Linked DNA regions of Homo sapiens. The protein of the gene in region 1 interacts with the protein of each later gene in a pairwise test. Each region holds a gene or a part of one and is shown in the gene's direction. Other genes may lie near its edges. The genes, in order: ATP1A3, SPIRE1, BOK and EYA3.

What was found.
Region 2: the proteins of ATP1A3 (region 1) and SPIRE1 interact in binary tests that used the Homo sapiens proteins (3 or more experiments, as listed by UniProt).
Region 3: the proteins of ATP1A3 (region 1) and BOK interact in binary tests that used the Homo sapiens proteins (3 or more experiments, as listed by UniProt).
Region 4: the proteins of ATP1A3 (region 1) and EYA3 interact in binary tests that used the Homo sapiens proteins (3 or more experiments, as listed by UniProt).

Annotation. Positions count from the first base shown.
Region 1 is NC_000019.10:41,991,118-41,999,211, reverse strand, and holds the start of ATP1A3 (sodium/potassium-transporting ATPase subunit alpha-3), read left to right. Parts: upstream 1-4,981; 5' UTR 4,982-5,135; coding exon 5,136-5,141; intron 5,142-5,744; exon of another isoform or gene 5,745-5,780; coding exon of another isoform or gene 5,781-5,819; intron 5,820-5,985; exon of another isoform or gene 5,986-6,004; intron 6,005-8,094. UniProt on the Homo sapiens protein: This is the catalytic component of the active enzyme, which catalyzes the hydrolysis of ATP coupled with the exchange of sodium and potassium ions across the plasma membrane.
Region 2 is NC_000018.10:12,459,007-12,466,119, reverse strand, and holds part of SPIRE1 (protein spire homolog 1), read left to right. Parts: intron 1-1,161; coding exon 1,162-1,252; intron 1,253-2,626; coding exon 2,627-2,769; intron 2,770-6,191; coding exon of another isoform or gene 6,192-6,365; intron 6,366-7,113.
Region 3 is NC_000002.12:241,561,697-241,568,809, forward strand, and holds part of BOK (bcl-2-related ovarian killer protein), read left to right. Parts: intron 1-651; coding exon 652-780; intron 781-7,113.
Region 4 is NC_000001.11:28,008,539-28,015,651, reverse strand, and holds part of EYA3 (protein phosphatase EYA3), read left to right. Parts: intron 1-2,357; coding exon 2,358-2,541; intron 2,542-4,565; coding exon 4,566-4,705; intron 4,706-7,113. UniProt on the Homo sapiens protein: Tyrosine phosphatase that specifically dephosphorylates 'Tyr-142' of histone H2AX (H2AXY142ph). 'Tyr-142' phosphorylation of histone H2AX plays a central role in DNA repair and acts as a mark that distinguishes between apoptotic and repair responses to genotoxic stress.

The DNA of each region.
Region 1 (8,094 bases):
GCGGCCCGAGCCGGGCCCTGCTGTCACTGCGCGCGGTCCGCGAGATGCGCCTCAGCAACGGCAAGCTCTACTCGGCCGGCGCGGGCGGGGATGCGGGCAGCGCGCACGGGGGCCCGCAGCGCCTCCTGGACGACCCGGGGCCCCCCAGCGGAGCCCGACCCGCCGCCCCCACCCCCTGCACCCACGTGCGCGTCTGCCAGGAGTGCCGGCGCATCCAGGCGCTGCGGGCCTCGGGGGCCGGCGCGCCTCCGCGTGGCCTGGGCGTCCCCGCCGAAGCCACCAGCCCGCCCCGGCCGCGGCCTGGCCCCGCCGGCCCCCGGGAGCTGGCGGAGCACGAGTGACCACGGGCGGGGCTGTGCGGGCGCCCGGACTGACCGAAGGGACGGGGCCCGCCCCAGGCCCCAGCAGTCTCCGCTCCCGCAGCGGGCGCGGGACAGGACTTGTGCGCCGGCGCCCCGGACGCCGCGATTTTGCCTTTGGTTCCCCGCGAAGTCCGAGGCCTGGCTCTGGAGCCCGCCTGCGCCCCCCAGTGGACTCGCGAGAGGGTGCCGCGGGCGAGAAGGGCGCAGGAACCGAGGACTCCAGGGGCTGGGGACTTCGGGGGCGGCTCTGGGAAGCGGAAAGCAGTCAGCGGAGAGGACCCCATTCTGGGACTGCTCAGGCTCCCCAAGACTTGACGCAGCCCCCCACGCTTCTGGAGGTGGGGAGGGCCTCTGGACAGATGGGTGTCCCCTGGTGCCCCTCCACTCTTCTCTTCCTCTCTTTTTTGGGGGGAGAAACCTCGGAATTTCTATGAGACCTCCCCCAGGGAGGGGGTCAGTTGGGCCCCCATCCCTCCCCTTGCCACATCGCAGCCCCTGTTGGAATAAAAAAAAGAACAAAACCCCAGAACTGGGGATACCGTCTCTCATTTCCTGGGGGTGTGAGGGCTTTGGAGGCTTGGGTCCCCGGGGCACCTGCTGAGAATCAGAGTGAGCCTCGATGGTTACTTCCATGCTCTCTCCACCCTCAGCCCTGCCTACAGGCTGCAGGCCAGCCCGGGTCCCAGCAGCTGGCCCCTCTCCACTGACCTTCTCTCAGGACAGAGGGAGGCTGCGACAGAGACCCTGAGACAGATGGAGAGATGCAGGGATCTGGAGACGCGGAGACACCGGAAGCGGAGACACAGAAAGACAGAAAACAGATGGGGCTGGGGGAGGGGAGGGCCAGTGAGCTGTTGAGTGTGGCCGTGCCTGGGGTGGCGAGTGTGTGCCTGGGCCGGGGTGATTCAGTGACGTTGTGATCGTGTGTGCACGCATCTGCGAGGCCATCTTCAACTGTCTGTGGCTGTGATCCCGTGTTTCTGTTGAAAATGTACCTCCCCAACCCCCAAGAGAGGAAGTGAGGAATCCCAGTAGACTGGGGGGTGGGTGGGCGGGCAGGGGTGGGAGAGGCTGAAGGGCTGATGGCGCAGGAGAAAGGTGGGTCCGCCTTCTGTCCCCGCCCTCCCTGCCCCGCCGGAGGTTTCTGTGGAAACTGCAGCTGAGGAAGGACGAGTGAAGGTCACACAGCAAGAGCCAAAACGAGGCCGAGCAGAAAGGGAGAGATGGAGGGATGGCGAGAGACAGAGATGGGGAGAGACAACGAAGGGGGCAGAGTGGGCGGGAGGGGGATGGGGAGAGAGAGCTAGAGGACACAGAGCCGGCGAGACAGGGAGAGAGGCTGGGTGAGGTGAGAGAAGACTGGAGAAAGAATAGAGGGCTGAGACCAGAGGTGAAGCGGGAGGGTAAGATACACCCGGAGTTGGGGTGAGAGACAGGAAGCCATAAAAAACTAAATGGAACCTGGAGGGGACTGGAACGGAAAGGAAAGCCTGACTGGAAAGGTCCCAGAGAGAGCGAGGCTGCGCCCGTTCCTGGGCGGCGGCCCGGGGCTTGGGAGCTGTCCGTTCAGCACCCAGTTGGCCAGCCTGAGCCCAGAGCGCCCGACTTCCCTCCAGGGCCCGCCTGCCCAGCGCAGTCCTGGCAGGCCGGCCACACCCTGGGAGACCCCTCCCCGCACACAGCGCCCCCCGTCGCCACCCGTCCCCTTCTGCGTCTCAGACCCTGGTTGCGTGCCCCTCGGACAGGTGTGGGGGCAGGCACCAGCCTCTCTCTGTTGTCTCGCATCTCTATCTCCACGTCTCTTACACACTCCAATCAATGTCTCTGCCCTTGGGTCGGACTCTTTGTCGAGGTGACTAGAACATGATTACAGACATTTCTGGTTTCTCCCCCTTCTCTGTCCCAATGCCTCGAGGCCAATTCCCTCTGGGGTCTCCCCCATTTCTGAGTCCCCGGTCCCCTACCAGGTTTCTGCTCAGTCTCCCCCTGGCCTTTATCTCTGAGTCTCCCTGGTTTACCAAGCCTGTCTCTGCCTGGCTGTCTACGTCTCTCTGTCTCTGTCACCTTCACTGAACTCTTCCGTTGCTCTGTCTCCGTGTTCTCATCTCTGCATCTGCCAATCTCTGTCTGTCTTTTTCAATCTGTTTGTATCCGCCTCTCTCTGGTTCTGGGCTGCCTGTTTCTCCCTCTGTGTCTCTCCTTCCGCCTCTCACATCTAGCTCCCCTATTCCCCTTTATCCCTGTGACCTTCCCAGGTCTTTCCTTCTCACCGCCCCCCCTACTTCTGCAGAGCCTCACCAGGAGCACGATGCACAGTCATCAGTCTCATCAGGCTCGTGCCTGAGGAGAGAGTGCATGAGGGGGGACGTGAGCTTGTGTCTGAGGTGGGATGGGAAGGGCTCAAGGCCTCCCCCGGCCCAGCTGGAGAGCAAGAGCAGACAGAGCCTAGAATCTCCTGGAATCCAGGCCTCCCCCACCTCCCCAGGCTTCCCCATCTCCCCAGTCCCATTCTCCATGGTCCAGGCCCATGCCTCTAGGCCAAGGTGTCAAGAGAAGGAAAGGAGGATATGTTGATAGGCTCTCCCTCCCCTAGGAAGAGGGCAGAGTTGGGGAGGGGGCGTCTGGGGGTGAGGCATCTGGGTTAAAAGATGTGGCTCCTCCCCCTTTCCCAGTCTCCATGGCAACAGCCCAGTCTGCAGGCCCAACCTCCTTTGCTGCAGAAGCAGCTCCCTGTTACCATGGCAACAAAGGACAGCGAGAAAGATGGGGACGGGTCAGAGGACAGGATTGGGATGGGGCTCTGGGCACTGGGGAAAGCCTCCATTCACTCTCTGGCCTTGTCTCTGTCCATATGCTGTGGCTCTGAATCTCTGTGTTTCTGTGCCTCTCTCTGGCCTTCAGCCTTTCACACATTTCCCTGCACCAGGTCCTCGACCTTCACCCACCCACCCTCATACACCAAGCTCACTCCCTGTCCCTTGCCTGCGTCCCCCACATCTCCTATCCCATAGGTGGAGAGGATACCCACATTCTGAGAAAACTACAAGGTCAAATGCTCTCTGTCTCTCTCTCTCTCTCTTCCCCTTCTACCATCCCCAGGGAGAGTCTGGGGTGTTCCTCATAGAACAAAGTGGTGTTGGAGTGAGTGGGGAGGCCTCAACTTCTTGGGCTCCAGTGGGGTGGCTGATGGGGTGTTGTGTGTCGGCAGCAGGCCTGGGGTGTGGGTGCCGGCTGTGCATCTGTGTGTGTACATATACTGTGACGAGCTCTGTGTGTCATGTGGGTGAGGGCGTTGGGGTGTGTTTGGAGGTGCAACAAAGATGTCTGCGATAGTGCTGCAATAACGTGATGTGTGTATGTGTGGGAGGTGTGTGGGTGTCGCGTGACTTGTGTTTGAATTATTGTGCTATGTGTAAGTGTGTGCACCTTTTTGTCTGTCATTCACAGTTAGCATTGGCAACTTTGCACTGTGGGCCGTTGCTCATGCCCAAACACACTGGGGAGCAGTGTGTGTGAGGATGTGTGCGACATCGTGGGATCATGCAACGATGTCCACAAAGGCTGATGTAGTGTGTCTGGAGGCAGTGTGAGGCCTGTGCGTGTGTGATGGTGCTGAGTGCAGGTGTGTGTTGGTTTATGGGTTGCACGATGTGGGTTTCTATGTGAGATGGTGGGAGGTCAGGTGTGGTAGAGTGTGTGATGTGTGAGTCTGCGATTTTCTGAGTGTCGGTGTTAGTCCGCACAGCACTTTGTGGCTGTGATTATGAGTCTCTTGTGGTGTGATGGGTGTGTAAGGTGTGTGCCCTATGTGTGTTTCACTCTATGTTTGAGACTCTGTGTGTGGTGGGGTGGTGTTGTGTGTGTGAGGGTACATGCTGGCCTATGGTGGAATATGAGTGCAACCCTGTGGTGTGTGCGTGTCCCCAGCATCTGGGCTATCAGTGTGATGGTCCTGTGTAACTGTGACGCTGGGCATTTTCTGGGCCTCCTGGGGCCATCCTCCACCGTGTTGTGTCTCCCGTGTACCCTGTGTGGTTGTGGCTCATTGGATAGCTCAGGCGTAGTGGGGGGGCACCCACAGTGAGGGAATCTCAGGGCTCCTCCCGCCAGCACCCCTCCTCAATTGCAAGGCCTTTCTTGCTCTCTTGTGTTCCCTTCCAACTTCCCCTCCTGCAGGGCCCTCTCCCTGAACAGCACTACCCCCCGCCGTCTCCAGGGTCCCTGGTGCCACACTGCAGTGATTCACCGGGCTTCCCTCCCACCCCGTGTCACTACCCGCCCCCCCTCCCCCAGCGTACCCTTCTCGGTGATGGCACACCCCCACAATGAGAGGATTTCCGGGGTTTTCTTTCCCTGAGCGCCCCTTCTTGGAGGCCCTACTCCATATTGAGGGGGTCTCCAAGTCCCCTATTGCGGAGGTCTCTGGGAATCCCCCCACCCCCGCAGCGCTCCCCCTTCGCGGCCGCGCCGCCACTTTGCGGAGCCCAAGGGGAGGACAGCTGCAGTACCAGGGGCGGGGCCGCGGGCCGTCCGTCAGCACGGCGGCGCCCCTGATTGGCCAGCGCCGCCCCCCTCCCGCGGACGCGGGCATATGAGGAGGCGGAGGCGGCGGCCGCCGCAGCCTCTGTGCGGTGGGACCAACGGACGGACGGACGGACGCGCGCACCTACCGAGGCGCGGGCGCTGCAGAGGCTCCCAGCCCAAGCCTGAGCCTGAGCCCGCCCCGAGGTCCCCGCCCCGCCCGCCTGGCTCTCTCGCCGCGGAGCCGCCAAGATGGGGGTAGGTGCTGAGCCGGCTGGGCGCCGCTTCCGTGTGACATTGTGGGGCCGGTGACATTGGGTGTGCGCGGGGGGCGGGGGCACCGGGACCCCTGCGCTCCGGGGCCAGGCCTGCGAGACCCGGGGAGCCGGCTGACCCAGCCAATCCATGTGGTCGTGGGGCCGCAGGGGGCGGCGGGGGGTCTGTGGCGCACGTTGGCATGGCTTTGTGTGCGGAGATCCGCGAGGTTGTGGGCCAGCCCTCAGCATCTCCGCCTGACCTTGTGCGGTTGCATGTGCACAGTTGCATGTGCGTATGAGAGCTGCTGGCTCTGTCAGGCCCTGGCAGCGAGTGTGTGGGCCCCGTGGTGTCTGAAAGTCTGCGATCGCGTCTGGGTGTGTCTGTGAGAGCTCGTGTTAGTGCGTCTGGGGTTATTGAGGCCCCCCTGCTTCCCTGGCAGGGTGCGGATAGGTCCACGTTGTGGGATGGACACCAGATGACCTCTCTTTCTCCTTCCAGGCCTGGATGGGGGGACTCCGCAGTGTGTGTGTGTGTGTGTGTGTGTGTGTGTGTGTGTGTGTGTGTGTGTGCAGGCTCCGCAGTGTCGCAGCCTGGGGCTGCAGTGTGTGTGTGTGCAGCCCCTCATGTAGGGGAGCAGGCATGGGAGGCTGGGAGGAGGAGAGGAACAGGAGAGCCACGGTGGGGAGACTGAGTGCACAGCTGAGGGTGTGCGTGTGCAACTGTGTAGTGGGGAGCGTGCATGCCTGGCTGTGTCCTTGCCTCTGTGTCCGTGTGTCCTTGTCTGTCTGTGAGTCTCTCCAGCAGATGCCGCCTCCCTCCCTGGCTGACCACCTGACCCTTGCTGCAGCCCTGGATTCCTCCCTGTGTGTCTGGGGCGGGGCTGAAGGGAGGGGGAATCAGGAGAGGAGGGGGTGGGTGGGGGTAGGTGGGATGAAGAGGGCGGGAGAGGCCAGTGGAGGGAGAATAGGAGGGCTGGGGAGAAAGATGGCGGATAAAGGCTGATGGGCCCAGGGATGGAGGTGGGGGATGGGGCTGCAGATCTGTGGGGTGGGGCAGGGTGGGCCGGGGGGCTGGGAAGGAGGATTGGGTTGGGGCAGGACTAGGGGAGAGAAGGGAGAAAGGGGTAGTCAGTGATGGCTGTCAGGTAAGTGGGATGGAGGGAGGGAAGCTGTGGATGGATTGGGAGAAGACTGATGCTAAAAGCCCTAGAGAAGGAAGTTAGAGGGAGGTGGTCTTAGGAAACGGAGTGGGGACGAGAGGAGAAATGAAGGCAGCTTAGACATGGGAAGGAAAGACAGAGACACATGGAAAGACAGAGATGCTCTGAAAGAGACAGAGAAAGAGACATGGACATAGAGACAAAGAGACAGAGACAAGCAGAGAGACATGGCTGAGACACATGGAGAGACATTGAGAGAGAAAATGAGAAACTGAGGCTCAGAGGAAGAGACACAAGGACAGATATTTCCTATCTAGCGGCAACCACAGTCAGCCTGAGGGACAGGAAGAGGAGGCAGAGGGCAAAGGGGGAGGTCAAGGGAGGGATGGTCAGAGATGTGGGCCAGGTCCCCTGCGAGGGGGAAGGGAGGCCGGCCCAGGCGCAGAGGCTGCGGGAGCTGGCACCAGATCAGGGAGAGGCGGACAGCATGGAAAATGGCAAGGAGCTGCAGAGGCGGCCACAGCGAGACAGGCATGGTCCCCACCCTTGGAGGTGCTCCCACCCCGCAGCGCGCCCATCTGGGCCTCCTGCCTTGACTGGGAAAGCCTCAGCTGTGCACTCCAACAGATGGGAGCCTGCTCCCCAAGGGGGTCTGGCTGTGTCAAGGGCAAGCAGGAGCCAAGGCCAGGGCCAGGGTGAGCCAGGAGTCCCAGGGTCCCGGTCCCTCCTCCCTCAGACCAGGAGTCCAGGCCCCAGCCCCTCCTCCCTCAGATCCAGGAGTCCAGGCCCCAGCCCCTCTTCCCTCAGACCAGGAGTCCAGGCCCCAGCCCCTCCTCCCTCAGACCAGGAGTCCAGGCCCCAGCCCCTCCTCCCTCAGATCCAGGAGTCCAGGCCCCAGCCCCTCCTCCCTCAGATCCAGGAGTCCAGGCCCCAGCCCCTCTTCCCTCAGACCAGGAATCCAGGCCCCAGCCCCTCCTCCCTCAGACCCAGGGGTCCAGGCCCAGCCCCTCCTCCCTCAGACCCAAGGGTCCAGCCCCAGCCCCTCCTCCCTCAGACCCAGGAGTCCAGGCCCTGGCCCCTCCTCCCTCAGACCCAGGATTCCAGGCTCCCAGTCCTTCCTCCCTCAGACCCAGGGGTCCAGACCCCTGCCCCTCCTCCCTCAGACCCAGGGATCCAGGACCCCAGCCTCTCTCAGTATCTGAGAGTCCGGCCCAGCCCTTAGCATTTATGGGGCCCCGAGCATCAGCTCCCAGCCTTCAACTAAGGTTTCTGGGTGGGCAGCTGATTTTCTCCCTCTCTCTCTCCTGACCCCCATCTCACCCCTCTCCTGGCCTCCTGCACAGGACTTGACCCCAGGCCTTTGTAGCTCCACATCTCTCCATCTCTCCATGTCTCTCCATCCTGGGTCTACCCCATCGGGCAAAGCTGAGACCACCCCGGCACTGTAGGGCAGTAGGAAAGATGGTCTCCCCGTCCCCCAAGCCTCTGTGCCTCCGCATCTGAGACGCAGTGCTGCTGCAGGGCTGGCGTGGGGCCAAGCCTCCCTCCCACCCCCTGCACCCCTTCTTGAGGCTCCCAGATCTCCAGGCTGCTGCCCCTCCCTGCACACCCCCACCCTCCGACTCAGCCTCTGGGTCTGGGGGCAGACAGCAGGCAGCTCAGGCCCTCTACAAGGTCACGAGGAGATTAGCGCTGAGCCGCGCTGAGCCTCCGATCCCAGCTTGGCCCTGGGCCTGCGGGACCTGTCAGCGGCCCCTGCAGCACCCAGCCTCGCCCCACCCCTCCCACCAGCCT
Region 2 (7,113 bases), on another chromosome or scaffold:
TAGACATTTTTCTTTTTCTTTTTCTTTTTTTTTTCTGAGACGGAGTATCACTCTGTCACCCAGGCTGGAGTGCAGTGATGCGATCTCAGCTCACTACAACCGCTGCCTCCCCGGGTCAAGCAATTCTCCTGCCTCTGCCTCCCAAGTAGCTGGGACTACAGGCGCGTGCCACCACGCCTGGCTCATTTTTATATTTTTAGTAGAGGTGAGGTTTCACCATGCTGGCCAGGCTGATCTCAAACTCCTGACCTCGTGATCTGCCCGTCTTGGCCTCCCAAAGTGCTGGGATTATAGGTGCGAGCCACCGTACCTGGCCCACAATGTAGACATTTTTCTAGACTCATATGACATTTCATGAAATGTTTATTTTTTCATCCATTCATTCAACAAACACTCATTACTTACTAAGTGATGGGTTTGGTACTGGACATACATCAGTGAGCAAGACAGACCCAGCATCTGCTCCCATGAGGCTGACAATGTATTACTTGTATAAATGTATTAAATATTTCCCTAATAATATTAACCACTGTTTTATTGTGTGCCAGGTAATGTGTTAAGCATTTTGAATGCATTACCTCATTTCATCTTTCCAATAACCCTATGGAAAAAGTGATATTAAATACCCTCTTTCACAATGATGAAACTAAGATAAGAAACATGCTCAGGCCAGGTGCAGCGGCTCACACCTGTTACCCCAGCACTTTGGGAGGATCGCTTGAGCTCAAGGCCAGCTAGGCAACATAGGAAGACCCTGTCTCTACAAAAAATTTAAAAATTAGCTGGGTGTGGAAGTGCACACCTGTGATCCTGGCTACTGGAGTCTGAGGTGGGAGGATCACTTGGGCCCAGAAGGTAGACGCTGCAGTGGGCCCAGATCACACCACTGCACTGCTACCAGAGCAACAGAGTGAGACCCTGTCTCCAAAAAACAGAAAGAAGCATGCTCAGTTTCACATCACTCTCATCAGGGCAGAGCCAAGGCACAAACCCAGACCTGTCTTGTTTGAAACCCCTTCTAGTTTGTCTTTTGCTTGCCTTGAACCTTTGACATACTTTGGTGCCTCATGTTAAAATAACTGTTTAATAATAAAATGTTATTACGTAGCACTAGAGCACAAATGTCTAAGAAGTCGATTTCTCCACCTGTACTTTGCTCAGGAAGAAACGCTGCACAAGTCGACCAGCAGCAGCAGCGTGTCTCCCTCTTTCCCTGAAGAGCCAGTCCTGGAGGCCGTGTCCACAAGGAAGAGTGAGTAGTTGTGGTGCTAAGAGCTGTAGTCGGATGTCTTACTACAAAACACACTTGACCTAGAGCAGAGATCCCAGAGCGCCCTGTGATCATCTAGGGTAGAAAGAACTAACTCAGGCATTTCACTGATCGGGAGATGAAATACTTATTTTCCAAGAGTGGCATCATACCAGGCCTCGGGGTCTTATGACAGAGCAGGCACATGTGTGTTTACGAACAATAGTCATGGGAAATATTATAAATCAGTTGTGTGTGTAGCGTTCTGTTTTGTTTTGTTTTAGATAGATTACCTCCTTGGCTAAATTTAAACCAGAAGCCCAACACAACCATATTTATTATCATTCCACCTACCACCCACACACACCCATCTCCAAAAACCTGTGTAGATAGTGAAAACACCTTTATAACTCTTTAGGAGATAGATTCTGAACACAGATATCTAAAGTTAAGGGATTTCTAAAGGCTTTTAATAATCCTTTTCATTTATAAGAACATTATGAAGTATTAAAAATTATATATTGGCTTGATTTCTCATACACAAAAATTCTTTAAGTAGTTTTATTATTTACACAGATTATATCAAAAACAGTAGGTACTGACTATCCACAATTGGATATTATAGGGACCCAATTGAATCACATAATGGATTTCTGTATCTTTTCTTGACTGTGGAAATTATATCTGTGTTTTCCTTTAGTGGTTTCTCATGGTGGGACAGTCTAAATAGATGGATCATATGTAACTTTGTGTTGACTCTCACTTTCCACACCCACTACATTGAAGCAGCTCTACTCTGTAGATAGAGTAGGAGGAAGCACTAAATAAAACTCTGGCACCATAATTTATTTCTAATGTTCTCCTTTTGTTTTCAAAATGGGAATCCAGAACCGTTCAGACACTAAAGCAGTCTCCTTTTAAACAGTCTTAAAATATTACTAGGCAGAGAAGGACAATGGTACAATATTAACATCAAAGCTGAAGCTTACTTTTTGCAGTTTAAATACAGTTTAATTTAAACCTAAGGACAAAATGTCTTGGTAAACATGTAGAAAGAAGGATTTTCCTTATTTTATCTTTAAAAAGGAGAATGTAAAAAGAGGGTACATTGAGAATTTTGGTATGATTTGGGAATCTTTCTGGCTACACCTAACATTTTTCCTTTTTTCTTGCTATTTCTGTAGCAAGTTTACTTTGCAAAGATTCTTCTGTAACAGCCCTCAGAGTCTACTCCTAAGGATTACCATTACCATCTTAAAATATCTCTCCAATGAAATAAATAATTCATCTTTGAATTACAGTGTTTGTCACAAATGTCAAAAGGTTTTGTGTTAGAAAATTCACAGTAAGTTTTATTTCATTTGGTTCAATCTTTAGAGCCTCCAAAATTCCTGCCCATATCATCAACACCCCAGCCAGAGAGACGGCAGCCACCCCAGAGACGACATTCCATTGAAAAGGAAACGCCTACTAACGTGAGGCAGTTCCTGCCGCCTTCCAGGCAGAGTTCCCGCTCTCTTGTAAGTACAGGAAAGACTTTGTAGTAACTTAGGGACCAGCTAGAAGACATAGAATCATTAGCTTTCTTATGAAGATGATAAGGAGAAAAAAACTTGCAAAAGTTAGAATGAATTTTGAATAACTTACTTAATAGCTAAAGAAAACAAACAGCCAGGCGTGGTGGCTCGTGCCTATAATCCTAACACTTTGGGAGGCCAAGGTGGGAGGATTACTTGACTCCAGGAGTTCAAGACCAGCCTGAGCAACATTGTGAGATCCCGTCTCTGCAAAAAAAAATAATAATAATTAGCCAGGTGTGGTAGTGCACACCTGTGGCCCCAGCTGCTTAAGAGGATGAGGTGTGAGAGGATCATTTGTGCCCAGGAGGTTAAGGCTGCAGTGAGCTATGACTACACCATTGCACTCTAGCCTGGGCAGCAGAGTGACACCTTCTCCAAACTCTATCCATAACCTAAACGAAACTTGACCAGTGTTTGTTCATTTTGAGCTCTTTTTTTTTTTCAAGAAAATTTATCAGTGGTTGAAAGTATGGATTATTATTAAAGAAATGCTTTCTTTCTTTCAAAGGCTATTAATCCATTTAAAAATTGTTAAAAATTGACCAAAAAAACTCTTAGCAAAATGACTACAGTAGGTGATCTTATTGAGGCAGAAGTACAAGCGAGGGAGAATTTTGATCCATTAATAACTACTGTACATTGTTTTCTAGTATGTTTTGTGATATTTGGGGCCAGTGGTGTTATTTTGGTTGAACTGGTTTATAGTTTTTGCTGTTTTCCAGAGACTTGCAGGTTCTTATAGTGGGTGCTCATTTCTCAGGACAGTGGGCAGCACACAAGGGTTTGCCAGGAGGAATTAGTAGATCTCCCAGCCAACAGAGGTCTCCAAAGACTCTTTTGTAGCGCCACTTGGCTTCTGAAATATTTGTAGGCAAGATGCACAGCTGTAATTAATATTCTACCCACAGTCAAATATCTAATGTGTTTTCAAATATTCATGAATAAAAAATAATAGAATATATTGAATACTAAGTCCATTTTTTAAGGCTGTGATGAATTATTAGAGTTTCAATTAAAGTAATAACAGATGGGAGATAATGCGATTATTGTGAAGACAGGGATTTTGAACAGAGCTTAGAATGTTAATATTTGGTCATTCATCTCTATGCCAAAACAGTGCAATTAAAGAACTAATGATTTTATGGCGATTCCTGATAGGATTCTTCTAGCTCCAGAATAATCACCAAAACACAGCTATTCGATTAAATATAGCCTTGTCAGTGACTTACCAACAAGAAAACAGAACTCTGACCAGACAGATTCAAACGTAAAAATCTAAAAATTTGTTTTCATGTGAATAAGTTATTGCTTTTACCAAAATATACAGCTATTATCACAACTTTAAAATATGTAAGAGGGTCCAGGCACAGTGGCTCACACCTGTAATCCCAGCACTTTGGGAGGCCAAAGGAGGAGAATCGCCTGAGGCCAGAAGTTTGAGACCAGCCTGGGCAACTTAAGAAACCCCTGTCTGTACAAAATTTTTAATTAAAAACTTAGTTAGATGTGGTGGCGCATGCCCGTAATCCCAGCTACTCAGGATGCTGCAGAGGGAAGATCCCTTGAGCCTAGGAGTTTGATGCCACAGTGAACTAAGAATGTGCCACTCCACCCCAGCGTAGATGACACAGCAAGACCCTGTCTCTAAAAATATATATACACACATATGTGTATGTGTGTGTATATGTGTGTGTATGTATGTATATACATATGTATGTACATACATATACACGCATGTATGTATATACATATGTACGTACATACCACACATATGTATGTACGTACATATGTACGTGCATACACACATATGTATGTACGTACATATGTACATACATACACACATGTATGTATATACATACATACACACACACACACATACATGTGTATAGGTAAGAGGGAACTTGTGGTTTTTTTCATAAGTCTAATCATTAGGGTATTCTCTTCTTCACTCAGCTTTTCCTAGAAGCCAGTCTATCATTCAGCTTGTAACTGGCCTTTATGTGATCATACAATGTCATTATTGAGGTTAGACTTAAAGTTTAAAATTAGCAATGTAAAGGAACTATCAGCTTAGCTACAAGGTAGTTTCAGCTTATAATAGAAGTTATGCTGAGACCTTCAGCTGACCCCAAGGGCCCATGACTGTGTCTGTTTCCTGTTAAAGCAGAGCTCTTAGTGTTGCGAGGTCAGGCCGTGCACTGTTTTTTTGTGGAGCAGGAAGGAGAGCAAGATAAACTAACTTGCAATCACTGAGGAAGGTCTCAGTGAGCAGGCAGTGGGAGAGCCGCTCTGCTCAGCACTGAACAGTGGTCAGATTGAGGGCAGGGAGCAGAGTCCACGCAGGCCTCCAAGCACCAGCAGAGACGAAATGATCTTCCTTGCTAATAGCTTATCTTGGGAAATCCATAAAATCATACCTTGTAGTAATGCCCTATAGCTTGGTAAGTATTGTTTTTATAAGTGTAATTAATTTTTAAATGTAGCTGCATTTTAGAAAACAAAGAATCATTTTGTATTTGTAACTCCTCAACTGAAAATGGCAGGAATGTTTTTATTGTTGATAATTTTTTTTTTTTTTGAGATGGAGTTCCGCTCTTGTTGCGCAGGCTGGAGTGCAATGGCTCAATCTCGATTCACCACAACCTCCGCCTCCCGGATTGAAGCGATTCTCCTGCCTCAGCCTCCCAAGTAGTTGGGATTATAGGCATGTGCCACCACACCCGGCTAATTTTGTATACTTAGGAGAGACGGGGTTTCTCCATGTTGGTCAGGCTGGTCTCGAACTCCTGACCTCAGGTGATCTGCCCGCCTCGGCCTCCCAAAGTGCTGAGATTACAGGCGTGAGCCACTGTGCCCGGCTGATAATTTTTATTTTTGTTGTATCTCCCTCCCTTTTCTTGTGATGTTTAAAATGTCATTTTTTTTCATCATTTGGTCAAATAACCGAGGGCAAATGCCCATCCAGTCTAAAGGCACCTCGTGTTGGCAGTACCTTCCTGGGGCAGGTGCAAGTGGCTGCCTGGCACATGTCCCCATGCTTTCTCAGGCACAGTAACGAGTTGCCTCTATCCTTCATCACAACAAGCCCCACTGAGGAAACTCAGAGTGTTTGCAGGACCCTAAATTAGAAAAATCCTTGCTGTGTGAACGCTGAGATTCTCCAGGAAGGACTTCGTGGTTTCATCACTGATTTATACGTGTGGATGCAGATGTTCGCACGGACTGTACCAGCCTCATGGTGTTTTTTGTTTTGTTTTCCTTTTGTGATCTGTAATCACTATGTGTAGGTCACTTGTGTTCAGCATTATTTTCTCCTTTTCTTTTCCCCCTGCCATTTTCTTTTTCCCTTATCTGTTGTTCAGGTTCCTAGGATAACCAGTGTATGGCCAAGGACGCCTTTTCGACCACTTTTTTCTACCATACAAACAGCTTCTCTGCTCAGCTCTCATCCTTTTGAAGCAGCCATGTTTGGGGTAGCAGGGGCTATGTATTATCTGTGTGAGAGAGCTTTTACCAGCAGGTGGAAATCCTCAAAGGTTGGCCTCTTTCTGCTGGGTCTGGGATTATTTCATTCTCTGTATCTCTGACGGTGACACCTCAACTGTTGCGTTCTCTGAGAATTAACCGCTTAGATAGCACTTTGCTTCCAATCATTGATTCCACCCTTGTGCAGGATGCACCGATCATGCCGTGGTCTCAGTTGAGGGAAATAACTGGGAAAGGACAACAAACTCAAAATGCAGCATCTGATGAAGGGGACCTGTGGGTGTTTGTCTCCTCGGGTGACCTAATTGTATAGCAGAGTCAGTGCTGCCACCTTTCTCCATGTGCAGCAGGCACTCTGAGCCCGTGGGGTGCATTCCTCCTAGGGCCTCCCCCCACCATCAGAAGAGTATTTGCTCACTCATTCCGTGAGCAGAGCATCCTCCTGCCAGGCCAGGTAGCCATGGTGGACTCCGCCCACCCACAGACACCTGCACAACCAGGGCATGGGCTCAGGAAACCTGTGTGCTCCCATCACCTGTCATGAAGCTGTGTTATGACAACCAGGGTGTGTACGTCACTTCTCTGCAAAGAGAAATTTCAAGTTTCCTTTTTAATGATGTGGCTATTTTAAATAATTCTGCATTATATTACTGTTTTTTGAGGTTTTTTTACACAGAATAATATATCATTATTTGAACCTTCACAATTCTACGTGAAATAAAAAGCTCTACGACCATATTGAAGCCTCTTCTGCCACCACGTAGCAGGTGCTCAGAGCAGCCTTTGTGCTACAGTAGG
Region 3 (7,113 bases), on another chromosome or scaffold:
GCCAGCCCAGGTGGGAGCGTGGCAGTGCGGGTGGCCCAGGACAGCGGCCCAGCCAGCCCAGGTGGGAGCGTGGCAGTGCGGGTGGCCCAGGACAGCGGCTCAGCCTCTGCATCTGAGTGGTCCCTGAGCCATGCTAGGGCCTGAGCCGGGCTCTCGGGCTGTCCCCTGCTCTCACCCCAATGCTTTCTCTGCCCAGCCCCTCCCCACGTCGGGCTCCCCTGCTCTCACCCCAGTGCTTTCTCTGCCCAGCCCCTCCCCACGTCGGGGTCTGGCCGTCTGCCTGGTCCCTCCTGCTCTGGGCAGCTCGGCTGCCTGTCGGCTGTGAGTCACCAGCAGGCACGGCCCACGCTCTCGCAGGATTCCCGCCCCACCGGCTTGGCCGGCTAGGCTTAGGGGCTGGCTCGTCAGAGGGGCGGGACTGGGGGCGCCTTCAGTACTTCCTTGGTCTTCTGGTCCCTAGGGGCCAAGGTTGGGGGATGGCCCAAGGGAGGTCAGATGGGGTCAAGTGGAGGTGGGAATCAGACAAGTGAGGAACAGGCTGGAATTCAAGCATGGTCAGGTGGGGGTCAGGTGCAGGGTGTGCCCCAAGCCAGTCGTGTCCCAGGAAGCTGGGACGTGGGCTGCCTCTCACCTGCTCTTGTGACCACACAGGCGATGAGCTGGAGATGATCCGGCCCAGCGTCTACCGCAACGTGGCGCGTCAGCTGCACATCTCCCTGCAGTCTGAGCCTGTGGTGACCGATGCGTTCCTGGCCGTGGCTGGCCACATCTTCTCTGCAGGTATGCCCAGCCTGCCCGTCCCATGGGACCTCAGGGAGGGATCCAGGGTCTGTGGCTCAGGCTCACAGGGACCCCACGAGCTGGCCCCCACCCATCCTGGCGCTGCCCAGTGCCCACCGGTGCCATCTCACTGCTGCAGGTGTCAGGAGCTGCCCAGCCACCAGCGTGGGCTCAAACCACAGCATTCAGGGTCTCTTGTGGTTCTGCAGGCTGGTGGGCATGCTGAGCAGCTGGCACAGGCTTCTTGATTGGTTGTAGTTGTGGTCCAGCATCCGTGGGGCCGCGTGACCTGCAGTCCTGTGGGGTGGCACGTCCTAGGGCTGCCTGGTTTCCTGCAGGGGCCCCCGAGCGGGGCTTGGGCTTCTCACAGCATGGTGCTGTGTCCCAAGGAGGAGTGGCAAGGAGCAGGTTTCCCAGACAGCTCCCGAGTAGATGCTGCCAGGCTGTTAGGATATACCCTCAGAAGTCACGGGTAACTCTGCTGGATTCTGATGGTCAGAAGCGAGCCTCAGGGCTCCAGCGTCCAGGAGAGGGGAGAGCATGGGGGTCCAAGCAGACTGGCTCCCGGAGGGCATCCGGAGAACAGCAGCGCATCTCACCTGGCTGTGCCTGCCTCACCTGTGACCCTCCTGTGCGCTCCCATCTCTGCCCTGGAGAGGCATCTCCTGGCCCTGCCTCCCTGCTCCTGCTGCTCCCGGCTGTCCACATGCTTCTAGGCCCACGGGAGGCTTAGGGCTTGTCTCCCCTACTCGGTGCCCGCTGTCCACTTGTCCAGCTGCCTTGGCCTGGATTTGCCCAGTGTGGCTTCTGTCCGCTTGCCCCATGTCATCAGGTCTGGCCCTGCAGACCTCAGCCCCCTGCCTTTGACCTCTGTGACCTTGGGTCCTGTCCTGGCACCCCGTGCTATGAGCTGCCCCTGGGTGTGGCAGGCGCTGGGTGCTGCTGTTGGGGTGAGTGGTGCGCCGGCCCTGATGTGGCACCTCCCTGATTGGCACATTCCTCAGCTGTTTTCCAAGTGCTGTCCAGGTGCTGGGCACAGCTCTGGGCCAGTGAACCCCGGGGTGCGCAGGATTCCCTGAAGCTTGGAGGAGGGGCATGCTGTTCCCCTGGGGCAGTTTTTTGGAAGACCCCTGACAGCAGGGAGGCCTTGCACACCCTTGTCTGGGAGCTGGTGTGGGTCCGTGGCCAGTCAGCTGTGTGACTGTGGCCTGCTGTCATCTCTGTGGCCTCAGCTGCCTTGTCTCCAGGCAGTCCTGACAGCAGCAGGAGCCAGGCATCAGGCGCCAGAGGAAGCCACACCCTCGCTGTGGGAGATGCATCCCACGCCACGGGGTGACCCTCAGAGCCAGGGGTCTTCAGATGGCCTCGGGACCTCCACCCACCGGAGGGCAAGGGGAAGAGGCCAGGAGTGTGAGGACCACTGCCTCTCGCTCAGGCAGACCCCACCTTTGTGGGGTGTCCTCCAGCTCCTCTCCCAGACGTCTCCTCCGACCCCTGGTGGGCCAGCCAGATGGGGACAGAGCGGGGCTGACACCCTCGGCTGGAGGCCAAGGCGGCGGGGGCTGCGAGCATTTTCTGACAGAATCCGGCCTCTCCAGTGCCACGCTTGCTCACTGCTGACCTCCCTGGACAGAAGTTACTGTGGCTGGGATGCAGCGGCGACCTGGCAGGCTGCTGGAGCGGGAAGGCTGAGTCCAGGGATGGGAGTCCAGGCGGGGTCTGGTCCTGCCTCCGGGCTTGTCTTGTTGCCACAGCATGTGCTGGAGTGCCTCAGACCACACCTGGGGAGGGGCAGTGACCTCAGGCTGTGGTGTGGGGTCAGGAGGCGGAACCAAGCTGGGTGCGGGCGAGACTCCCTGTCTGGCGCTCCTGGGGTGGCCTCAGAGCCTGGACTCTGTCACTGCTCCTGTGTTCCTTTGGGAGATCGTAAATGAATCCTCATTGGCAGTTTGGCTCCAAGGCCCCCACGTGGCAGCTGAGGGTGGGGGGCCGGGCCCAGGCCAGGCTGAGGCGTGTCATGGGGCAGACCTGAGTCGGCTGGGGGTGCATATGGGTAGGGGCTGGGGAGTGGGCAGGTGGTGTGGCTCAGGGGCCGGGTGGGCAGGGGGCAGGGTTCACGGCACAGTGGGCAGCGGAAGCATGGTGGCAGGAGCTGGCAAGCTGGTGCCCGCCCCTCCTGCCGCCAGGGTGACCCAGGCAGGCACGGGGCAGGCAGTGGGTGGGGCCCCGGAAGGAAGCCAGGGGTGGAAGGCATCCTGGGCTGACGACCACTCTCAGCCCTCCCTTGGCCGACGCCGGCGCGTGGGTGGCCACCCGGGTGTCTGTCTCGGGGCCGCTGGGTTTACGAGCTGCAGGCTGGCTTTAAAAGGAACAGTCATTTCTGAGAATGCAGCAGCCTGCCCAGAGGTGGGGCGCCTCCCCCTTCGGCAGGGAGAGAGGATGGGGCCAGGATGCCCCTACCCGCCCGGCCTTGCTTGAGCAGGGCCTGGCCTGAGGTGGGGGCGGTGCCTAGGAAGGCTCTGGTTGGTTCTGGGAGGGCACCTGGGGGCCAGGGAGGGCTGAGGGGAAGGGGATGGCTGGACGAGCGGGCACACAGCTGACGGGGAATGTGGGCGGCACCGGCCAGGTGGCCCGGGCTATGTGTAGAGTTCAGTTTAAGTCTTGTTTTCACTGGAAAACCGGAGCCCACTCCCCTGTGGTCAGCATCCCCCACCCCACCCAGCGCCCCAGGCTTGTCCCACGCAGGCCCGGCTCTGGCCATGTGGCAGCCCCCACACCCCCACCTGCTGCTACTCTGAGGCGGCCCTGCCCGAGGGGAGCCACGCAGGTTGAAGCCCAAGAGCCTCGTGACCTGCAACGGGTTTCTGAACCTCCCTGAACCAGAGCCACCTGACTAGGGAGCTAGGGCAGGGCCGCCCCTTCTGCCCCTCAGGCCCACTGGCAGTTGCACCCCCAGCCCCCTTCACCTTTGTCCATCCCAGTCCTCTTGGGCCCTTTTGTCTACAGGGCGAGCCTCCAGCCTCCAAGTGCTTTACACATCCTTGCCTCCCTGCCTGAGGCCCCTCCCACGCCAGCCATCCCTGCACGCTCTGACCCCCGGTCTTCCTCCCTCTCCTCCTCTTAGCAGGCGCCCTTGAGGGTGTGCGCCCTGCCCAGCCCCTCCACTGCAGGCAAGCTGCACAGCCCGCACCTCAGGGCTGGGGCCTTGGCTAGTGTTGTGAGCCGTGTGAGGGCTGCAGGGCAGGGCTCCGTGGGGGTCTCCAAGTCTCCAGCCCCAGGAGACTCCCACGAAGGCAGAGGCCAACAAATGTTGTTTCTGGCTGTTTTCATTTAGGGCTTCAAAGTTCCTGCTCAGGACTTTGGAAAAACTCATCTCCAAAGTGGTAGAACTCAATTTTCCTCCCCATTTAAAAGTTGGCAATAGTGTTTATTTTTTTCTTTGAATTTGAATTGTATTTTCTATAAATACATATGTAATTTTATATAATTCTTCTAATTATAGTTTTATTATAAGAAAAATAAAAATGGCTGGGTGCAGTGACTCACGCCTGTAATCCCAGCACTTTGGGAGGCCGAGGTGGGTGGATCACCTGAGGTCGGGAGTTTGAGACCAGCCTGACCAAAAAGAAGAAACCCTGTCTCTAATAAAAATACAAAATTGGCCAGGTTTGGTGGCACATGCCTGTAATCTCAGCTACTCGGGAGGCTGAGACAGGAGAATCGCTTGAACCCGGGAGGCGCAGGTTGCGGTGAGCCGAGATTGTGCCACTGCTCTCCAGCCTGGGTGACAGAGGCAGACCCTATTCTTTCTTTTTTTTCTTTTTTCTTTTTTTTTTTTGAGATGGAGTTTCACTCTTGTTGCCCAGGCTGGAGGTGCAATGGTGCGATCTCGGCTCACTGCAACCTCCATTTCCTGGGTTCAAGCAGTTCTCCTGCCTCAGCCTCTCGAGTAGCTGGGATTACAGGTATGTGCCACCACGCCTAGCTAATTTTTGTATTGTTAGTATTATTTATATTATTAGCAGACAGAGTTTCACCATGTCAACCAGGCTGGTCTCGAACTCCTGACCTCAGGTGATCCACCCACTTCGGCCTCCCACAGTGCTGGGAAAAAACACAAATCAGACCATGTCACTTCCCTGCATAAAGTTCTCGTGTTGCTGTGACTTCCCGTGTCTTTCAAAGTAAACCTAAGTTTGAATTCCCAGCTGAGCTGGCCCCTGGCAGACTCCAGCCCTTTTCCTGCCACCTCAACCTGTGAAATACGCCAGACACAAAATGAACAAGCCGTGTGATTACACTTATGTGAAATTTTCAGGGTAGGTAAATCTACAGAGACAGAAAGTAAGATGAGTGGCTGCCAGGGGCTGTCGGTGAAATAGGGAGTGACTGCTAGTGGGCATGGGGTTTCTCGTGGGATGATGAAAATGTTCTAGAATTAGATAGAGGTGATGGTTGCACAGCTTTGTGAATATGCTCAAAGATATCCCACTTTTAAAAGATTAATTTTATGGTAATGGAATTATATCAGTTAAAAAGACACAGAAGAGCTGGAAGGACACAGTGGACGCCGAGGCTGGTGCCTCCGGACTCCTGTCTTCCTGTCTTTCTTTCCCATCCACCCCTCTGGAGTGGAAATGTTGCCATCACTCGGAACATAGTATGTTCTTTTTTTTTTTTTTAATTTTTGCTCTTTTGCCGAGGCTGGAATGAAGAGTTGTGATCTTGCAACCTCCGCCACCCGGGTTCAAGCGATTCTCCTGCTTCACCCTCCTGAGTAGCTGGGATTACAGGCACCCGCCACCATGCTTGGCTAATGTTTGTATTTTTAGTAGAGATGGGGTTTCACCATGTTGGCCAGGCTGATCTTGAACTCCTGACCTCAGGTGATCCGTCTGCCTCAGCCTCCCCAAGTGCTAGGATTATAGGCATGAGCCACCGCACCCAGCGTGGAATGCACTGTTCTGATGGAACCGGACACCTCAGAACAGGTTGTCCCGCAAGCCACACGCAGTGCTGACATCAGGCTCCGCTCCCCGCATGGCCGTGCCCTTGAAGGAGGAACAGCCCCACGTGCTGGGGAAGTGCAGCGGGTAGAGCAGGGGCTGTGCCGGGTGTGCGCATCCCACCAATGACAAGGGCACCTTCGAGGTTGGGGTGGCAGGAAAAGGGCTGGAGTCTGCCAGGGGCCAGCTCAGCTGGGAATTCAAACTTGGGTTTACTTTGAAGGACACGGGAAGTCACAGCAACACGAGAGCTTTATGCAGGGGAGTGACATGGTCTGAGTTGTGTTTTTCCCCATTTCTTTTAATTGACGTTAAACTCACATGACATAATTATCCACTTAAAAGTGTGCAATTCAGCAGCATCTGCCACATTCCCAGTGTGGAGCAGCCACCAGCTACTAGTCTCAGGAGGTCTTTATCACCCCAGAATGCCTGTGCCCGTGGCCGCCACCGCCATTCCCCACCCCTCGCCCACTGCCAGCCGTGAGCCTGCGTCCCAGCTCTGTCCCTGACTGTTGTGGACATTTTGCATCCACGGACTCACACTGTATGTGGCTTTTTATGCCTGGCAGCTTCCACCCAAGCATGTGTTTTTGAGGCCCATCCATGCCCAGCCTGCCTCAGAGCCCCATGCCTTCTTTTATTTATTTATTATTTATTTATTTTTTCACTCTATTGCCCAGGCTAGAGTGCAATGGCGTGATCTCGGCTCACTGCAAGCTCCGCCTCCTGGGTTCACACCATTCTCCTGCCTCAGCCTCCCGAGTAGCTGGGACTACAGGCACCAGCCGCCATGCCCGGCTAATTTTTTGTGTTTTTAGTAGAGATGGGGTTTCACCGTTTTAGCCAGGATGGTTTCGATCTCCTGACCTCGTGATCCACCTGCCTCGGCCTCCCAAAATGCTGGGATTACAGGCGTGAGCCACCGCGCCCAGCCATTTATTTATTTTTTTGAGATAGAATCTTGCTCTGTCTCCCAGGCTGGAGTACAGTGGTGCGATCTGGGCTCACTGAAACCTCCACCTCCTGGGTTCAAGTGATTGCCCTGCCTCAGCCTCCCGAGTAGCTGGGATTACAGGCGCCCACCACCATATCCGGCTAATTTTTGTATTTTTAGTAGAGATGGGGTTTCACCATGTTGGCCGGGCTGGTCTTGAACTCCTGACCTCAGGTGATCTGCCCACCTCGGCCTTCCAAGGTGCTGGGATTATAGGCGTGAGCCACTGTGCCCAGCCTGCCTTCTGTGGCTGAGTAACATCCACCACATTTGTATCCATTTATCTGTTGAAGGATACTTGGGTTCTTTCCACCTTTTGGCAATTGTGAA
Region 4 (7,113 bases), on another chromosome or scaffold:
CCCCCTTGTGCCTGTTCATTCTCTAAAATACTATCTCATTAATTTTTTCTAAATCCCACTTTTTGTCATGTTACTGACCTGCTCAGAATATTTTCATGTTTTTTGTTTGTTTGTTTGTTTTTTGAGACAGAGTCTCGCTCTGTCACCCAGGCCAGAGTGCAGTGGCGCAATCTCTGCTCACTGCAAGCTCCGCCTCCCGGGTTCACGCCATTCTCCTTCTTTTCATGTTTTTATTCGTTGGTTTGAATTTGAGAGTCCCCATTCCCTATTCCCTAGCCCACAGGCTATATACTATTGCCTAAAGAATCCAAGTCTTATTGCTTTACCAATCATTCAGGCCTACAGAGGTCCTTTGTTTCAACCAGACTCAGCATCTGTGGTCCCTGAATAAAATCTCCTCAGAGCCTATTCATGTTCTTACTTTCTCTGCCTATTAATCTCAGAAAGCTTCTTCACCATCATACTTTACAATGATAGTTGTCTGTTCTGTATTTCAGTCATTTGACATATATTTTATTGCCATTTTGTTGTCTGTCTTCTCTCCTGCTAGATTTTTAACTCCCTTGAGTTCTGCTAGTGTGACTTATTCTTTTCTTTAATATTTCCTTCTTCTGCCCATGCACAAATACACACATACATATAATTATATTTGGTTTATGGTAGAGATACCCAATGACTAATTAGAAATAATGTATCTGATCAGTTAGCTTTTTCCTACTTGCCATCATTATCAGTGTCAATGGAATTTTTTTAGCTGCGTATTTGAACTGTCATACCTAGTTTTTTTACAGCTTTATTAGGGAGTAATTGACATACAGTAAACTACACAGATTTAAATTGTACAGTTTAGTAAGTTTTGCCATATATGTGCCTATGAAACCAAAAGTTTTATCCCAATATTTTAAGAAACCTTTTTTTTTTTTTGAGACAGAGTCTTGCTCTGTTGCCCAGTCTGGAATGCAGTGGTATGATCTCAGCTCACTGCAACCTCTGTCTCCCAGATTCAAGCGATTCTCCTGCCTCATCTTCCCTAGTAGCTGGGACTACAGGTGCATGCCACCATACCTGGCTAATTTTTGTATTTTTAGTAGGGGCTGGGTTTCGCCATGTTGGTCAGGCTGGTCTCAAACTCCTGACCTCATGTGATCTGCCTGCCTCAGCCTCCCAAAGTGCTGGAATTATAGGCGTGAGCTCCCGTGCCTGGCCTTTTTTTTTTTTTTTTTTTTTTTTTTTTGAGACAGTGTGTCACCTAGGCTAGAGTGCAGTGGTGCAGTCTTGGTTCATTGCAACCTTTGCCCCCTGGGCTCAAGTTATCCTCCCATCTCAGCTTCCCGAATAGCTGAGACCACAGGCGTGCATCACCATGCCTGGATTTTTGTTTGTTTGTTTGTATTTTTAGTAGAGAGAAGGTCTCACTATTTTGGCTAGGCTGGTCTCAAACTCCTGAGCTCATGCGATCCTCCCACCTCGTCCTCCCAAAGTGCTGGGATTACAGGCGTAAGCCACTGTTCCCGGCCAGGAAACTATTTTTAAAGAAAACTTGATTGTTTTAGGTAGATAATCAGGTTGTTTTTTGTTTGTTTTGTTTTGAGACAGGGTCTCGCTTTGTCACCCAGGCTGGAGTGCAGTGATGCAATCTCGGCTCACTGCAACCTCCGCTTTCCAGGTTCAAGCGATTCTTGTGCCTTAGCCTCCCAAGTAGCTGGGATTTCAGGCATGTGCCACCACGCCAGGCTAATTTTTGTATTTTTAGTAGAAACAGGGTTTCACCATGTTGGTCAGGCTGGTCTTGAACTCCTGACCTCAAGTGATCCACCCATCTTGGCCTTCCAAAGTGCTGAGATTACAGGCATGAGCCACTGCACCCAGCTGATAATCAGTTTTTAAATTAAGACATTTTAATGTAGGATATGTGCTTTTTTTGTTTGCTTAAGTTTAAGTTTTGTTTTGTTGTCCTTAGAAGTGCTATTATCTAGTGCAACAGTTTGTAAACCTCTTAGAGTAGAATCTTTCCCTCAAATTCTGTGCAGAAATTCGGTACATAAAACTGGGGGAAGAGGCTGTTAGAGTACAAAAAGGGACACCATGTGTATGTTTATGAGAGTACAGAAGACCCTTCCCTCTCAGCATTTCCTCATTCCAAGACTGCTCCTGGGACATCTCTTGACTTAGGTTTCCACAGAATGCATTTTGAAAATCATTGATTTAGATTGGAGACTTTTAGGTAGGTAAATGAGAAGTCAAATTAATGTTTTAGAAAAATAATTATGAATAAGAAAGAGGGAGAAGAAAGCCTCTTGTGTTGAGATTAATGTATGCTATAAGAGTCTTGTTTTCTTATTTCCTTTGGCCTGCAGGATTATCCCACCTATACTATTCTTGGTCAGAATCAGTACCAGGCCTGCTACCCCAGCTCCAGCTTTGGAGTCACAGGTCAGACTAACAGTGATGCAGAGAGCACCACATTAGCAGCAACCACATACCAGTCGGAGAAGCCTAGTGTCATGGCGCCTGCACCTGCAGCACAGAGACTTTCCTCTGGTAAGCACCGCAGCTCTGAAAACTTTGGCTTAAGGTCACTTCATCCAACAGTTGTTTTTAGGCAATGGTAAGGATGATTTTGTTCTGTCTTAAGTCATTGTTACCATGCTTTTGGCTTTCCCTCTGAGGTGAGGAGTATTGGAAGCAGGCTGTGAGTCATTGGTAGGCTGAATGTATACCTGATGCTGAGAACGGAACAGAAAAGTATCAAGAACTAAAAGACTCTTTCTGACTCGTACTCTACCCTCCCTGTAGCTTTAACCCACTTGCCACAGGGAGCTTCAGCATGTTATAATATTTTGTAAAAGTTGGAGGACTCCAGTTTTAGTCTTGCGCAGGTTTTGAACTGCTGCTAAGGCCTCAGAGCCATAGTTCTTTCTATGTCCAGGATCCCTTTAAGATTCTGAGGAAAGCATGGTCCTTTTCCCTCAGAGAAATATATACAATTTAACCTACAATTTCAGTATGCTCACAGCTCTGAAGTGTATCAATGAATTACAGTGTCCAACTTAAAAACCTTTGACATAAAAGATTAGACACACATTTAATAAACATATATATACACACACTTTTTATTTATATTTAATGAAAATTTGGTAGTTGGCTTTCACATCATGTGGTTCGAGGAAAGCACTGTTTATCATTGGCACTGATGCATGTTTAGAAACAGTACTATATAACAAGTGAACAGTTTTCTGTGCGGTCACCCTACCAGTCTAATAAGTGGACATACAAATGGTCGCCACTTCAAACTTACATAAATTTGAAATAATTACAAGTGTTGATTAAAAACTAAGGTTTTAAAGTCATTTTTCTAAATATCTTTGTTATAACAATTTTAACTTTTGAATATTGGAGAATTTCAAACATAGAGAAAAGTTGCAAGGCTAGTGTGATGAACACTTACATATCCATCATTCATCTTCAACAGTTATCAACTTATAGACAATTTTGTTTCAGCTATACATCATCTAGCTCCCTCCCCAGATTCCAGGCATTGTTCTCTAAAAGATAAGTATGGTACTTATTAACATAACCACAATGGCATTATCCCATCTTTAAAAGTTCAATATTAATAATGTCTTAATTTTGTATTATCAAGTACCAAAATGTATTTGTATTTCCAGCTTTCTCATAAATGTTATGAGTTTTGTTTCCCTTTTGTTTAAAGTAGGATCCAACCCATTCCACAGTGTATACATATTTCAAAACAACATAAAGCATATACAGTTTTTATCGCATTAGTAAATAGAAATAATAAATAAATAGAAAATTTGAGGAGGGAAAATTAGGATCCAAATATAAGGTCCATAAATTGTGATTGGTAATTATGGGTATTTTGTGTTTCATCTCTATTTTAACCTATAAATCCTCCCGTCTCTTTTTCTCCCCCTTGTAGTTTGTTTGTTGAAGAAACTGGAGTGTTGATCCCATACTGTTTCCCAGTCTGAATTTTGACAGTTATATCCTCATAAGGTGGTTTAACATGTCCTGCTGCCTTCTGTATTTTATAGTAAATTGGTGAATGAACAGTTGTTTTCAACTGTTGGCAATGTATGGAAACATTTTTGGTTGTTACACTAGGTGGGGCGGTGCTTCTGGCATCTAGTGGGTAGATGCTAAGGATACTGCTTAACCAAACATCCTATAATGCACAAGACATCCCCCCACAACAAATAATTATCTGATCCAAAATGTCAGTTGTGCCAGGTTGAGAAACTCTAATCTACAAGTTTGACCATGAAGATTCAGGTTCAGCTTTTTCTTGGCAAAACAACTTCATTGATATTTTCTTCTATCATGGGGTAAGCATATAAAGTCTGGTTATAACTTTTCTGATGTTAGCCAGTGCTGATGCTCAATGCCTAGATGTACACTTCATAATTGCTTACATAAGGTTTAGCTTTCCAACCTTTATCCCTGCATTATGACTCACAAGGGCAGAGAGTCCACTAACCCTCTTCCTGCCCTGATTCTTATAGCCTGTGACTCCTGACAACATATGTTTCACTTTTTCTTTCCAGGAGACCCTTCTACAAGTCCATCTTTGTCCCAGACTACACCAAGTAAAGATACTGATGATCAGTCCAGGAAAAACATGACTAGCAAGAACCGGGGCAAGAGGAAAGCTGATGCCACTTCTTCCCAAGACAGTGAATTAGAAGTATGAGAAGAAACTGATTTAGTTACCTACTTTGTTCTTTCTCACTTCTTAAGTTTATCAAACATGTTTTTGAAGCTCACAGAGATAATGTGCACTATGTTATGTGCCCTTTAATTCCTGAGCAAAATAAACTAAATTGGCCACGTTAAAAGAAAAATGTAAAAAGAACAAATTATTCTGTATATTCCAGAAGAGAACAGAAACAATTCATCATATTCAGAAAGCAGAGGGAGTTACAAGTAAAGTCATACTGTTCTCTATTTAAAATTTTAAAAGGGTCAGGTGCGGTGGCTTACATCTGTAATCCCAGCACTTTGGGAGGCTGAAGCGGGAGGATCGCTTGAGACCAGCCTAGGCAACATAGTGAGACCCCCATCTCTAAAAATATATATATACAAGAATTAGCTGCACACCTGTAGTCCCACCTACTTGGGAGGCTGAGATGGGAGGATCACTTGAGCCTGGCAGGTTGAGGCTGCAGTGAGCTATGATCGGGCCACTGCACTCCAGCCAGGGCAACAGAGTGAGACTCTGTCTCAAAAAGAAAAGAAATTTAAAAGGAAAGGACTAGAGTGCTTTTAGCCAAGTTTCTGTAAGGCGCAAACAGATCTGGTAACTTATTAATGAGACTGGTGCTGATTTATTCTGTAGTGTAAGTACTATATGAGTTTATTATGGACATACATTTGACTTCATCATTAAAGACATAAAGGTCATGCAGAGTGCTAAAATTAGTGGAGTTTTTGTATTATCTTTTTGTTTTCTGTTTTCCGTTTTTCTATAGTGCTATTATGTACTGAGGGGAAAATACATATTTAACTATGAATCCATTGATAAGTGCTCTTAAGACATAGGTGAACTGAGCCTGTATTTGAAGCCTTTTCTCTTTTTTCAGAGGTTTGGAGTGAAGAAGAAAGAAAGAAAAAGTAAATTTCTGATATATTTCTTAGGAAAAACTGATAACTCATTTTTTAATTGTCTAAAATATACATAAAATTTACCATTTTAGCCATTTTTAAGTGTACAATTTAGTGTCATTATACATTCTCAATATTGTCTAACCATCACCACTGTATATTTCTAGAACTTTTTCATGATTCCAAATGAAAACTCTGTACCCATTAAGCAGTAACTCCCCATTCTCCCCTTCTTCTAACCTCTGGTAACCTCTATTCTACTTTCTGTCTTTGACTTCTTATTCTAGATATCTCATATAAGTGGAATCACAGAAAATGTATCCTTTTGTGCCAGACTTATTTCATTTACCATAATGGTTTTTTGTTGTTGTTGTTGTTGTTGTTGTTGTTTTGAGATGGAGTCTCAGGCTGGAGTGCAGTGGCACGATCTCGGCTTACCGTGACCTCTGCCTCCCGGGTTCAAGTGATTCTCCTGCCTCAGCCTCCAGAGTAGCTGGGATTATAGGTGCACACCACCATGCCTGGCTAATTTTTGTATTTTTAGTAGAGACAGGGTTTCAACATGTTGGTCAGTCTGTTCTTAAACTCCTGACCTCGTGATCCGCCTGCCTCGGCCTCCCATAGTGCTGGGATTACAGACGTGAGCCACCATGCCCTGCCTACCATAATGTTTTTAAGGTTCATCCATGTTGTAGCACATACCAGAATTTCATTCCTTTTTATGTCTGAATATTTTATTATATGTATATACCACATTTTGTTTATCCATTCATCTGTTGATGGACACTTGGGGTTTGTCACCTTTGTGCTATTGTGAGTAATGCTGCTTTGACCATTGGTGTACAATTATCTATCTGAGTTCATCTTATCAATTCTTTTTGGTATATATGTAGGAGTGGAATTGCTGGATGCTATTGTAATTCTGTGCTCCACTTTTTGAGAAACCACCAAACTATTTTTCATTGTGGCTGCACGGTTTTATACTCTTACCAGCGATACATAAAGGTTCCAGTTTGTTCACATCCTCGCCAACACTTGTTATTTCCCATTTTTTTGATAATAGCTATTCTAATGGATGTGAAGTGGTATCTTATTGTGGCTTTGATTTGCATTTCCCTAGTGCAGTGGCACAATCTCGGCTCATTGCAACCTCTGCCTCCCAGGTTCAAGCAATTCTTGTGCCTCAGCCTCCTGAGTAGCTGGGATTACAGGCACATGCCACCACGCCTGGTTAATTTTTGTATTTTTAGTAGAGACGGGGTTTCACCATGTTGGCCAGGCTGGTCTTGAACTGCTGACCTCAGGTGATCCACCCACCTCAGCCTCCCAAAGTGCTGGGATTACAAGCATGAGAACCTTTGCCCACTTTTAAACTGGGTTGTTTGGTTTTTCATTGTTGAGTTGTAGGAGTTCTTTGTATATTCTATATTAATATTCTAGAATATTCTAGATTATTAATCCCTTATATTAATCAGATATATAATCTTCAAA